3 separate regions of the Homo sapiens genome follow, and all the other regions are linked to region 3. Evidence: fine-mapped expression QTL. A gene starts in region 3. Each other region holds a variant in brackets. All regions are shown on one strand. Distances are from middle to middle.

Evidence for each region. PIP is the estimated chance that this variant, and not a neighbour inherited with it, causes the effect. A credible set is the group of variants that fine-mapping cannot tell apart.
Region 1: its variant is the best candidate, but not a certain one, in a credible set for the expression of AXIN1 in hypothalamus (GTEx, PIP 0.63).
Region 2: its variant is the best candidate, but not a certain one, in a credible set for the expression of AXIN1 in NK cells (Gilchrist 2021, PIP 0.63).

Annotation. Positions count from the first base shown.
Region 1 is chr16:827,296-831,444 of GRCh38, reverse strand. No RefSeq gene overlaps it. Among named protein-coding and RNA genes, the nearest start is that of GNG13, 29 kb to the right of the region's middle. The variant G/A (reference allele first, on the strand shown) is at 2,412.
Region 2 is chr16:292,535-296,683 of GRCh38, reverse strand. It overlaps AXIN1 (axin 1), which reads left to right. Exons shown (of 11, transcript NM_003502.4): 8 at 2,966-3,196. Among named protein-coding and RNA genes, the nearest start is that of PDIA2, 11 kb to the right of the region's middle. The variant G/TG (reference allele first, on the strand shown) is at 2,224.
Region 3 is chr16:350,328-354,476 of GRCh38, reverse strand. AXIN1 (axin 1) reads left to right here and starts at 1,754. Exons shown (of 11, transcript NM_003502.4): 1 at 1,754-2,108. RefSeq lists silencers at 1,086-1,345, 1,386-1,865, 1,966-2,045, 2,326-2,375, 2,396-2,465 and 1 more.

The sequences.
Region 1 (4,149 bases), 480 kb before region 3:
CAGACACAGGGCCATGCGGGGCCGGGAGCGCCTCCTCCTGGGATCCCTGCAGCCCCTGCCCTACACTCCCAGGCTCAGGGGCCTCCTCCTGGCCCCGCCGTCCCAGGCTCAGGGCCTTCCTCCCGGATATTTCTTCTGGAGCCTGACCCATGGGCTTTCCTGCATCTTCTTTAAAGATAAAATCGAAAACAAATCTTTAAAGGCCATCTCCAAAAACCACAGAGGCCGGAACAAAGTAAAAATAAAGCTTCCTCTCAGGAGCTTCCTGCTTATCTAAAAACGCCTGTGTCAGCAGCACCTTCTAGCCCAGAGGGGTCCCTGGGGCCCCAGCCTCTGGCAGGGGCCGGACCCAAGGCCACGTGACCCACGGCAGAAGGTGCCGGGCCCTGGCGTGCGGTGCCACGGGACGGGGACAGTGACCAGCCCTGCGGCTCAACGTCAGTGTCCGCGTGTGTGGAGTCTCCTGCTCAAGGGAAAAATGCCCTTCAGTCCTACGAGGAGGCAGCAAGGTGGCTAAACAGTGCCTCCGACCACTCAAATATCAAAAAGCTGCCTTGCCTGGAAACAGGGTCCTTGCCGACGTCATTGAGATGCGGTCATACCGGATCAAGACGGACCCTAAATCCAAAGTCAGAAGACACGGCCATGACGACCAAGGCAGAGGCTGGAGTTATGAGGCCACAGCTAAGGCAAAGCTGAGCGCCAGGGGCTGGAAGAGGCAGGAAGGCTGTCCCGTCCCCCTGGGGACCCTCCGTGGCGCAGGCCCGGCAGTCCCCGATCTCAGGCTCCTGCAGCCTCGTTCCACAAGCCGGGCTGGGCTCCGGCGCATCCAGGAGCAGGTTCCCCTCCTCCCTGTGGTCAAGGCTCCAAGCCTGCCTCCTTCGCTCCTTCCCTTCCCAGAGTCTCACCTACCTCGGAAAAGAGGAGGTGGCCTGAGACCGGCTCTGCCGACAAGACCGGCCTGGGTGTTTTGAAAGCAGATATCCGTGAACGTTTTTAATCCGTAGGTGGACGGTACCAAACCCCAGTATGGACCGTGCGTGGGCACTGAGCATTTCATGACAGAAGGAGACGCCGGCCGGGAAACGCAGTGAACCAAACGCCATCCCGCCCGAGGCCACAACGCCCACAGCACCACCCACAACACCTCCCACAACACCACTCCTGGGTACACGTCCAGGCACCACAAAAACCTCTGTCCAACAAGAGCCGGTGCATGGACAACCACAGCATCTCACGCACTGCGCCCAGCAGCCCAGCAGCCCAGCAGCCCAGCAGCCCAGCGTCCACTCACAGACGAGCCACGAACCACATGCAGGCCAGCAGCCCAGCAGCCTGGCATCCACTCACAGATGAGCCACAAACCACACACAGGCTGGCCACACACAGAGCGCCACTCAGCCACAAGAAGGAAGGAGGCCCCAGCACACACCACACCGGGATGAAACCTGAGGCAGGACCTCGAGCGACGGAGGCTCAGAGGGACACAGTGTCTGATCCCATTTCTACGAAACATCCAGAACAGGCCAAGCCAGAGAGTCGTGGAGGCTCTCAGGCTTGGGAAAGGGTGGTGAGCCAGTGCTGATGGAGACAGGGTTTCCTTTTGGGGTGATGAGGACATTCAGGACTAGAGAGAGGTGAGGGCCGCCTGACACTGCAATGTGCTGAACGCCGCCCAAGCGTGCACTTTAAAATCAGTTAACACCGGCCGGGGGTGGTGGCTCACACCTGTCATCCCAGTGCTGTGGGAGGCCGAAGGAGATGGATCACCTGAGGTCAGGAGTTCGAGACCAACCTGGCCAACATGGCAAAACCCCATCTCTACTAAAAATACAAAAAAAGTTAGCCGGGCGTGGTGGCGGGCACCTGTAATCCCAGCCACTCGGGAGGCTGAGGCAGGAGAATTGCGTGAACCCAGGAGGTGGAGGTTGCAGTGAGCTGAGATCGGACCACCGCACTCCAGCCTGGGCGACAGAGGGAGACTCTGCCTCAAAATAATAAATAAAATAAAATAAACTTGGCCCCATGGAAACTGTTTTTCTTTCCTAATGATGGGGGGAGGGAGAAGGCTTTTCCATTCCCCAACCTCCCACATCACCCCACACAGAAGCCAGAGGCCCGGGGCCCCTCGAATCTCTCTGAGAGCACCTCGTAGAGACTCCGGGGAGGCCCGGCCTCCTCACACAGCAGCAGGAGGCACCTCTGATCAGCAGCAATGCAAACAGCACTGCCCACTCCACAGCCCACCTGCCCACTTCTTCCCAGCCAACAGGATCCAGGCCTTCCCAGGTGCGTGCCCGGGTGTGTGCCCGGGTGTGGGGCAGCCCCATCTCAGGTCAGTGTCGGAGTGAGAATGGGCAAAGGACGTGCCGGGCTGGTAGTGGTGAAGGGACACAAGACACAGGAAGGAC[G/A]TCTGTCCCTGGCCGCCGTGGGTGGGATGTGGGCCCCAGTGGGCGGGATGTGGGCCCCAGTGGGCGGGATGTGGGCCCCAGTGGGCGGGATGTCGGTCCCAGTGGGCGGGATGTGGGCCCCAGTGGGCAGTGGCGGTGCTGGTATAGACAGGGCCGCGCCTCTTCACCCCGTCCTCACCCCAGCGGCCCCGGAGCAGCAGGCGGACTCAGAGCTCCTGGGAAGGGGCTGTCGGCTGATGCAGGAGGAAGACAGAACTGCCACCCGTGGCTGGGTAGGAACGGAGGGACAGGACCCCACCCGCCATCAGGGGCCTGCTCATAACACAGTCCCACGGACCCCACCCAGAGAGCAGAGGACCTTCCCAGAGGGCATGGGGCTGCCACAGTGATGGCCCCCAGACTCCCAGGTCAGGGGCCTTCCCATTGTCGGCCGCCCAGAGGCTCCCGGTCCACTCCCCCCATTCCCCACTCTAGCTCACAGAGCCCGAGGATAGAGAGAGTCCTGAGTGCCCCTCAGGCCTCGGTCTTCCCACCCAAAGCGGCTCCCGTGCTCCACGTCAAACCTCCCCTCCCGAGGTGCCCCTGCCCACACGCCACCCTGCACCAGTGGGGTCAGAGCCTCCAGGAGACGAGGCCTCGGCCCAGCGTCCCTCCCTGCCTCCTGCCTCCAACCTCAGGCCTGAAACACAAACCCTGGGTCCATTTCATCGCACAAGTCTCAGTGTTTGAATCCAGCTTTACAACAACCCTGTTGTAGGCAGGTGTCTGCTTTTGAACAAACTGTTGGTTCAGGTCCCCAGTGCCCTGGGCGCGTAAATCTCAGCACATTTAATGCACCTGGCTTCCAGCCTCTGGCAGGATTTCGGGATGCGTGAGTGACTCGTCTGACCTGGGTCCAGGCACGGAGGCCCCAGCCATACCCTGGAGGCCGAGAGTTCATTTCCCCTGGCTAGGACTGGGCCAGACCCCTGCCTGGCTGCCCGCGCCCCAGGCCTGAGCTGGGCTGTTCCCCGGGCCTGGGACAGACACCCTTCCAGGTCCTGTCTGCTGCAAGGTTCCTGGAGCACATTCTCCCAGGACACAGTGGGGCAAAGAGAGAAACAGCAGGGTCCCCCCAGGACGCACGTCCGGGCTCCAGTCGTCACGTGTGTGGCATGAGGGGAGGGGTGTGTTCCTGTGCCTGGCAGCGAGTGTCTGTGTATGCGCGTGTATTGTGTGTGTGTTGTGTCTGCACACATGTTGTGCGTGCATTGCGTGCCGTTGCAGCCATGACATAAGGTGACACGTGCAGCTTCCACAGCTACCCTGAGACCTCCAGCACAACCCGGCAGCAGAGGCCGGCCCGTTTCCCGAGGCCTTCATCACAACCCAGGCAGCAGAGGCCGGCCCGTTTTCCGTGGCCCGTTTTCCGTCCTGTGTCTCGGTTTCCTTGTTTGTGCAACAGGGACCCTCCCAGAATCCCTGGGGTGACTCCGGGGAGCGTAGTGACAAGCAGGTCCGTGAAATCCCTGGGCACAGTGACTGGCACCTCCCGAGTGCAGCCCAAGGGCAGGGGTTCCACCAGAACCAGCTCTGCAACCACTGGGAGACCAACCTGCACGGAAGACCACAGCCTGCAAGGGGCCGCCCAAGAATCAGGCGGCGAAACCCATGAGACAGACTCGGGGAGCGGAGCAGAGGTGCTTCAGAAAACAGACGCGAAGCCAGGTCTGAGGCCTGGAAGCGACGGGGTCAGGCA
Region 2 (4,149 bases), 58 kb after region 3:
CGGAGGAGCCTTCTGTGCTCACACCTGGCCGTCCTGCTGAGGGCTGGGGAAGGCTCTTGTGTAGCGTGAGCACTTCTCTCCTCCCAGAAGGGCAGAGGCCTCGTGTGTGGTGTGGAGCAAGGCCCCGGCGCCACAGGTCCAGCCCCTGCCGCTGCCCGCCGGGCCGGTCTTGGTGTTGCTCCTGCTCGCCCCCTGGGCCTGCACTCGTGCCCGGAACCCAGCAGGAGGGCCAGGGGCCCCACAGAGGTGGTACCCCCCACCTTCCTGTCGTGGTCAGAGGCAGGTCAGCTGGGAAGTGTTGGCCCTGGTGGGTGGATGGCCCCAGCTTCCTCAGACTTAGGTCCTGATCTGCCCCCCACCCTCACCCAGGCCCTGGCCAGGACGCATCTCCCTCCACATTACTTGATGAGAACTTGTGAGGCAGCTGAGCGCCTGGGGCGTGGCCCTCCTGCCTGTGTTGGAAGCCTGTCCCGCAAGGCCTTGGGGTCCCCATCGGTGCTGACTGAGGTGGGGACGGGCTCATCGTTTTTCTGGGGCTCCCGAGGGAACAGGGGTGCACAGCACCTTGCCTGGCTCATTTTTTGTAGAGGGGGTCTCAGTGTGTTGCCCAGCTGGGTCTCAAGCTTTTGGGCTCAAGTGATCCTCCCACCTTGGCCTCCCAAAATGCTGGGACTACAGGCATGAGCCACCATTCCTGGCCTTCGAGTCTTTTTTTTTGAGACGGAGTCTAGCTCTGTCGCCCGGGCTGGAGTGCAGTGGTGCAATCTTGGCTAACTGCAACCTCCACCTCCTGGGTTCAAGCAATTCTCCTGCCTCAGCCTCCCGAGTAGCTGGGATTACAGGCGTGAGCCACCACGCCCGGCTGATTTTTGTATTTTTAGTAGAGACCGGGGCAGGGGGTGGTTGCCATGTTAGGCTGATCTCGAACTCCCAACCTTTGGTGATCCGCCTGCCTCGGCCTCCTGGAGTGCTAGGATTACAGGCGTGAGCCACCGTGCCCGGCCGAATCCTTTTTTTAAATAGCTGTATATACTAAATATTGCATGTCCCATATTTTAGGATAAGTATTAATACATTCCACTTTGAGACATACTTATACTTTTTATTCATTAAGACTTTTTTTTTAATTTTTTGCGACAGAGTCTCCCTCTGTCACCCTGGCTGAAGTGCAGTGGTGTAATCACACCGTTCACTGCAGTCTCAGCCTCCTGGACTCAAAGCTATCCGCCGGCCTCTAGGATTAGTATATAATTTGTATCCCAGTAAAGCTGTTAAAAATAAAATGTAAAAAAAGAAGCCTCATCCCAGCACTTTGGGAGGCCGAGGCAGGTGGATCGCTTGAGGTCCGGAGTTCGAGACCAGACTGGCCAACATGACAAAAACTCCATCTCTACTAAAAAAAATACAAAAAATTAGCCGTGTGTGGTGGCGAGTGCCAGTAATCCCAGCTACTCGGTGGCTGAGGCAGGAGAGTCGCTTGAACCTGGGAGGCGGAGATTGCAGTGAGCCGAGATCCGAGGTCGAGCCATTGCACTGCAGCCTGGGCAACAAGAGCAAAACTCTGTCTCAAAAAAAGAAAAAAAAAAAGTCTCCATGAAAGAATTTTTTTTTTTTTTTTTTGAGACGGAGTCTTGCTCTGTTGCCCAGGCTGGAGTGCAGTGGCCTGATCTCAGCTCACTGCAAGCCTCGCCTCCCGGGTTCATGCCATTCTCCTGCCTCAGCCTCAAGAGCAGCTGGGACTGCAGGCGCCCGCCACCACGCCCGGCTAATTTTTTGTATTTTTTTAGTAGAGGTGGGGTTTCACCGTGTTAGCCAGGACGGTCTCGATCTCTTGACCTCGTGATCCGCCCTCCTCAGCCTCCCAAAGTGCTGGGATTACAGGCGTGAGCCACCGCGCCTGGCCTTTTTTTTTTTTTTTTTTTTTTTTTGAGATGGGGTTTCGCTCCTGTGGCTCAGGCTGGAGTGCAACAGGCCAGTGTCAACGCACTGCAACCTCCACCTCCCAGGTTCAAGTGGTTCTCCTGTCTAACCCACCTGAGTAGCTGGGATTACAGGCACCCACTATTATGCCCAGTTAACTTTTTGTATTTTTGTAGAAACAGGGTTTCACCATGTTGGCCAGGCTGGTCTTGAACTCCTGACCTCAGATGATCCACCCGCCTCGGCCTCCCAGCGTGCTGGGATTACCGCGCCTGGCCATTTTTTTTTTTTTTTTTTTTTTTT[G/TG]AGATGGAGTCTCACTCTTGCCTAGGCTGGAGTGCAGTGGTGCAATCTCAGCTCACCGCAACCTCTGCCTCCCAGGTTCAAGCGATTCTCCTGCCTCAGCCTCCCGAGTAACTAGAATTACTGGTATCCACCACCACACTTGGGTAATTTTTTGTATTTTTTGAGTAGAGTCATGGTTTTGCCATGTTGGCCAGGCTGTTCTTGAACTCCTGACCTCAGGCGATCCACCCACCTTGGCCTCCCAGAGTATTGGGATTACAGGCAAATGAGGGTTGGTTTTTTGTTGTCTTTTTTATTCCTGAGACTGAGCCTCACTCTGTCACCCAGGCTGGAGTGCGGTGGCGTGATCCCGGCTCACTGTAACCTCCACTTCCCCAGTTCCAGCCATTCTCGGGCCCCAGCCTCCAGAGTAGCAGGGATGACAGGCGCCCAGCTAATTTTGTATATTTAGTAGCGATGAGGTTTCACCATGTTAGGTTGATCTCGAACTCCCGACCTCTGGTGATCTGCCCGCCTCGGCCTCCCGAAATGCTGGGATTACAGGTGTGAGCCACCATGCCTGGCCGGGATGTTTTTATTGTGTGGTCTGTGGAGGACGTCCATGTGGCTTGGTGGCCAGGCCCCAGTGCCCCATCCCATCCTATCCCTCAAGGAGGCTGCCCTTGTGAGATGAGTGTAGCCCCACCAGGCCACCTGGCCAGGGTGTCGGCCACAGTCACAACTTGTTCTCTTGTTCCCCAAGGTCTTCGGGGACGAGGAAGCCACAGCCCCATGAGAACTCCAGACCCTTGTCCCTTGAGCACCCCTGGGCCGGCCCTCAGCTCCGGACCTCCGTGCAGCCCTCCCACCTCTTCATCCAAGACCCCACCATGCCACCCCACCCAGCTCCCAACCCCCTAACCCAGCTGGAGGAGGCGCGCCGACGTCTGGAGGAGGAAGAAAAGAGAGCCAGCCGAGCACCCTCCAAGCAGAGGTACGGCCGCGTCGTGGGGTGGGGTGGGTCTTGGGGGTTACCACAGCACCACTCCTGGGGCTGAAGCTCCCCGAGGCCTGAGGTCTTCAGGGGAAAAACGGCCCTCTGGGTGTCCCCCAGCCATACTGGGCCCTTCCATCCACTGAGAACCACTGAGGGGCCACGTGGCAGGCCACCCTGCGGTGGACGGAGGCTGGGGCTGGAGCTTTCACACACCCGAGGCCGCCGCGCTCATTGCTCTGGAGGCGGGGTCCCTCCTCAACCTGAGCCCAGTCTGCAGGGAGGCTGCAGGGCCCCAGTGTGTGGGGAACGCCGGTCCCCAGCCAGAGGCTGCTCGCTGCTGGGCAGCCTGGGCTTTAGGGCAGAGGTCCTGGAGGCATGGCGGCTGCCTCTTGACAGTTGCGTCCCAGGAGCCCTGAGTGGCTCTGCACGGTCGGAAAGCTACGTGGTTCTGAAAGCCGTGCAGATGTAGAAGTGTCGTCCTGGACGTCCAGCCCACAGCCCTCCTCGCTGTGTCCTCTTGTCATCCTGGATGTCCAGCCCACAGCCCTCCTCACTGTGCCCTTCTCTCATCCGGGACGTCCAGCCCACAGCCCTCCTCACTGCGCCCTCCTTGGTCTTCTGGGCTCCGTAGCCAGACCCTGTTCTCTCCCTAGGGCAGGGAGGCTTCTGTCTGGGCTGCAGGGAGGTCTCCCCTTTGTGTGGGCAGCATTTTCGCTCCAGGCCAGAACCTGGCTTCTCCATTTTCAGCTTGCTCATAAGGCCAGTTTTCTCGGCCATCCTGGGTCATTGGAATTCCCCACAGATCAGTGTCTCTTTGAGGGTCCTGGGAGCCTATAGCTCACCCAGGCCCTGGGGCTGTGGTCACAGAGGCCATGGTTGCCTTCAGAGGTCACCAGCTCCTCCTGTCCACCTTGGGTCACCTGGGGCCTGGGGTCCAGGCCCGCCTCCCG
Region 3 (4,149 bases):
AGGGTGACACAGCCCAGGGAAAGACATGGGGGTGACGTGAGAGGTGCCTGGAGGGAGCTGGCAGGTATGGACATGATGGACACGGAAGCACGGAGGCGGGCAAGTGGCCAGACGCATCTAGGGGAAGGTGTGGGGGAGGCGCCCTTAGGAAGGGCCCTGAAGGGCTGTGGGCAGCAGGGAGCCCTGGGAGGCCTAAAGCAGAGGGCAGATAGATGAGGGCTGTTGTCTCAGGTGTGGGGCGGACGAGGTGGGGAGCCCTCACCCAACAGGAGGCGAGCTGGTCCTGTGTGGCCTGAACTGCAGCTGTCTCCTCTGTGAAACGGGGGTATAGCTGACCCCAGGGGGCTGCCTGGAGCATCCCGGGAGGTGCCAGGCCCAATAGTGCTCTGGGAAGGACAGGGCCCTGGGCTGTTGTGGGAGGCGGCAGATCCTGGTACTCACATCCTCCTCCTTGGGGAGGGCCTGATGGTTGGCTGAGGCCTGGGTGGAGAGCAGAGGGTTGGTTCTGACAGGGTTGGGCTGGCCAGAGCTGGTGCTGGGGCTGCTGCTGGGGGCCCGTGCCTCTCTGCCGTGGGGTGCCTGGGGCTGTGACCTCATGCTCTGTGGCCTGCAGGGCAAGTGACACGGATCTGGGCAGCCAGGGTGGCAGGATCGGACTGGACCCCTTGGCAGGGCCGCTGTGGAGACAGCCCAGGGGAAGGGGTGCAGGGGTCTGGACACTCCAATGGCCTTGCTCTCGGGCTGGCCTGGGCAGCGGAGGGAAGGAGAACCCTTCTCTGATACTAGATGGTGCCTGGGAGAAATCAAGGCAGAGGGTCCTAGCCGGTGGGCTCTTTGGAGGTTGTGGCTCCTGTCCGGGTGAGAGCCACCATATATTGGGGCCTAACGTGTTCCCTGGCGCTGTGAGTCCAGGCTGCCTTGGGACTCAGGAGGGTGGAGCCCACCCCACCTTCCAAGGGCCCTGGCCATCCCTGCCTGCCGACCACCCCACTCCTGGGAGCCTGCTTCCCTCACGGCGGCGGGCAGGCCGTGGCGGTCCCCACGAGGGCCTCCTCTCCAGGGCCGGCTGGGCAGGGAGCCCCGAGGCCTGCAGCCCCCTGACTGCCCTCCGATGTACTGGCGGCAGAAAAGGGCTGCGCCCCACGTGCGCCCTTCGGGGCGCGCAGTCCGCCCAGTGCTCCCCACGGCCGCGGCCATTCCAAGGACCTGCAACGCCGCCTCTCCCACTCCGCTCTCTGGGAAGCCAAAGCCTCCCGGGCTCCGCTTCCGCACCGCCCCTCGGGAAGACGGCGCGACCGCGCCCCCGGCACGCCCCGCCCCCGGCAGGCACTGACCACGCCCTCTCCCGGCCATGCAGAGACCCCGGCCCATGTTTCTCAACTCGTCTTCTCGCTTCCGGCCCCGCCCCGCGCCGGAGGCCCCGCCCCACGCTCTTTACCTCTTCTGCTCGAGGCGGGCCCCGCCTTACTCCCTGGTCCCCGCCCCACGCCCGAGGCCCCGCCCCGAGCTCTTCACCTCGTCTTCTCGCTTCCGGCCCCGCCCACGCCCCGGCCCCGCCCCGCGCTCCTCACCTGTCCCCTCGCTGTCGGCCCCGCCCCACGCTCCTCACTTTATCCTCGCGCTTTCAGCCCCGCCCCGCGCCTGAAGCCCCGCCCCACACCCTTTACCTCGTCCCCGCGCTGCCGGCCCCGCCCCGTGTTGAGGCCCCGCCCCGCGCTCTCACCTCGTCCCCGCGCCCCGGCCCCGCCCCCGCACTTCCGGACGCCGCCGGCGGGGGCGCTCGGGCCTGGGCTTCGGCGCTCTGGCTCGGGCTCTGGCTCGGGAGGCGATCGTGGCCGCTGCCGCCGCCAGAGCCGGCCGGAGTCGGCCCGGAGCCGCGTCCACGCGGAGCGGGCGGGTGGGAGCTGGCGGCTGGGCCCCTGCGGCGCCCCCGCGGCCTGCCCCGCGTCCGCCTCCGGGCCGCCGAGCCGCAGCCGCCGAGATGGGGGCCGCCCCGGGCCGCGCCCCCGCCGGGTCCCGCCCGCCGCGCTGCCGCTGAGCGCATGGGCCCGGACCGCGCCGCGCCGCTCCGGGAGCCGGGCCCGGGGTCCCGCCACCACCGCGCGCGGGTGAGTAGGGCCGGGCTCCGGGGCGGGCTAGGCCGCGGTAGGCCGGGCGGGCGGGACCCGGAAGCGGCGGGGGGCGCGGGTGGCTGACGCGCGTGGGACCGAGGGGGTGGGCGCGCGGGGAGCTGGGGCCGGGGTGTCCCTGGGCAGCGGGACTGGCGGCGCGGTGGCCGCTTGGAGGTCCGAGGCCTCGGGCGCGTCTCGGGGCACGGAGCAGCTGCAGGGGCCGCGCATCGCGTGCGGGGGCCCGGGAGAGCCGGGCCTGGAGCCCTCCCCGCCGCCCAGAAGTCGGCGGGAGTCCGGCTGTCCCGGAGGAGGACACTCCCGCCCGCCCTCGCCGAGGCCGCGTGCCGGGTCCGGGTCGGGGTTCGGCCTGAGTAGCCGCGTGCTCCGGCGTCCGTACCCTCCAGGTTGATGCCTTGCTGCCCAAACACTGGTCTTTCTCTTGGGTGTGGTTCTTAGATTCTACCCCCGCCCCGCACTTTGGAATTTAGCCCCCGTGAAACCAGAGCTGCACTGCCCGAGCAGTGAAACTTTCAGCTTGGCATTGAAGAAAGTAGAGAAAAACATGTCAGTTCTCTGGGGATTTTTCTCAGCCCATCTATAAGATATATATATATATATTTTTTGTAGAGATGGGGTGTCACTATATTGCCCAGCAGGTGTTGAATTCTTGGCCTCAAGCGATCCACCTGCCTCAGCCTTCCAAGGTGTTGGGACTACAGGGGTGACCACCGTCCTCTAAGATAATTTTTTTTTTTTGAGACGGAGTCTCGCACTGTAGCCCAGGCTGGAGTGCAGTGGCGCTATCTTGGCTCACTGCAACCTCCGCCTCCCGGGTTCAAGCAGTTTTCCTGCCTCAGCCGCCTGAGTAGCTGGGATAACAGGCATGCGCCACCACATCCGGCTAATTTTTGTATTTTTAGTAGAGACAGGGTTTCACCATGTTGACCAGGCTGGCCTGGAACTCCTGACCTCAGGTGATCTGCCCACTTTGGCCTACCAAAGTGTTGGGATTACAGGCGTGAGCCACCGCGCCTGGCCCCTTCTAAGATAATTTATAAAGGGTTCTTATGTGCATGTCAGCCCCTTGTTTTTGCTCACACTTCTGTTCTCTGCTTCTTCAGGAAGAATCTCGAGCTTACTTGGATCCACAGGCCCTATTTTGGAGAAAACACAGTCTAAACCGGCTACCCGAGATACTCAGCAATAGCTCGGTTTCAGTTTTTTTTTTTTTTTGAGACAGAGTTTTGCTCTTGTTGCCCAGGCTGGAGTCCAATGGCGTGATCTCCGCTCACCGCATCCTCCGCCTCCCAGGTTCAAGCGATTCTCCTGCCTCAGCCTTCCCAAGTAGCTGGGATTATAGGCATGCGCCACCAAGCCTGACTAATTTTGTATTTTTAGTAGAGATGGGGTTTCTGTATGTGGGTCAGGATGGTCTTGAACTCCCGACCTCAGGTGATCCGCCCACCTCGGCCTCCCAAAGTGCTGGGATTACAGGCGTGAGCCACCTCACCTGGCTTTGGTTTCAGTTTTAAGATCTCCATTCAGGGACAAGGATGGGAAAGCATGAAAAACAGACTGTTTTTGTTTGATTTTCAGCTGGTGTTGACTTGTCTTGGGTTTCTAGTTTCAGAAAAGCTAAGCAGACTTTTTCGGATTACATTGGTCATTGAGAATTTCAGTGATGGGGGAATAAATTACATGTGAAATAGTAGCCCTGAACCTTCAAGAGTTAAATCAATGGACAGCTGGGAAGATGTCAGAGTCGTGTTGTGTTACTTGCCTCCTCCATGTAAATCAAAATGTCAAAAGTTACGTTTGGGTAAAATAAATACCTACACACGTAGGTAGCATTGAGTTTGCTGCCATGATGCCTGGAGCATATGCCTAAGCGGTGACGAAAGGGAATTTTAAATACAGTATCATACTTGTAGGCATCCCGCCCGTTTTATGGACTCACTTTATTGATGGTAGCTACAGGCTGTGGGCCAGATTCAGTGCTTGCAGGCATTTGATACTGAACTGAGTAAACGTGACTGCT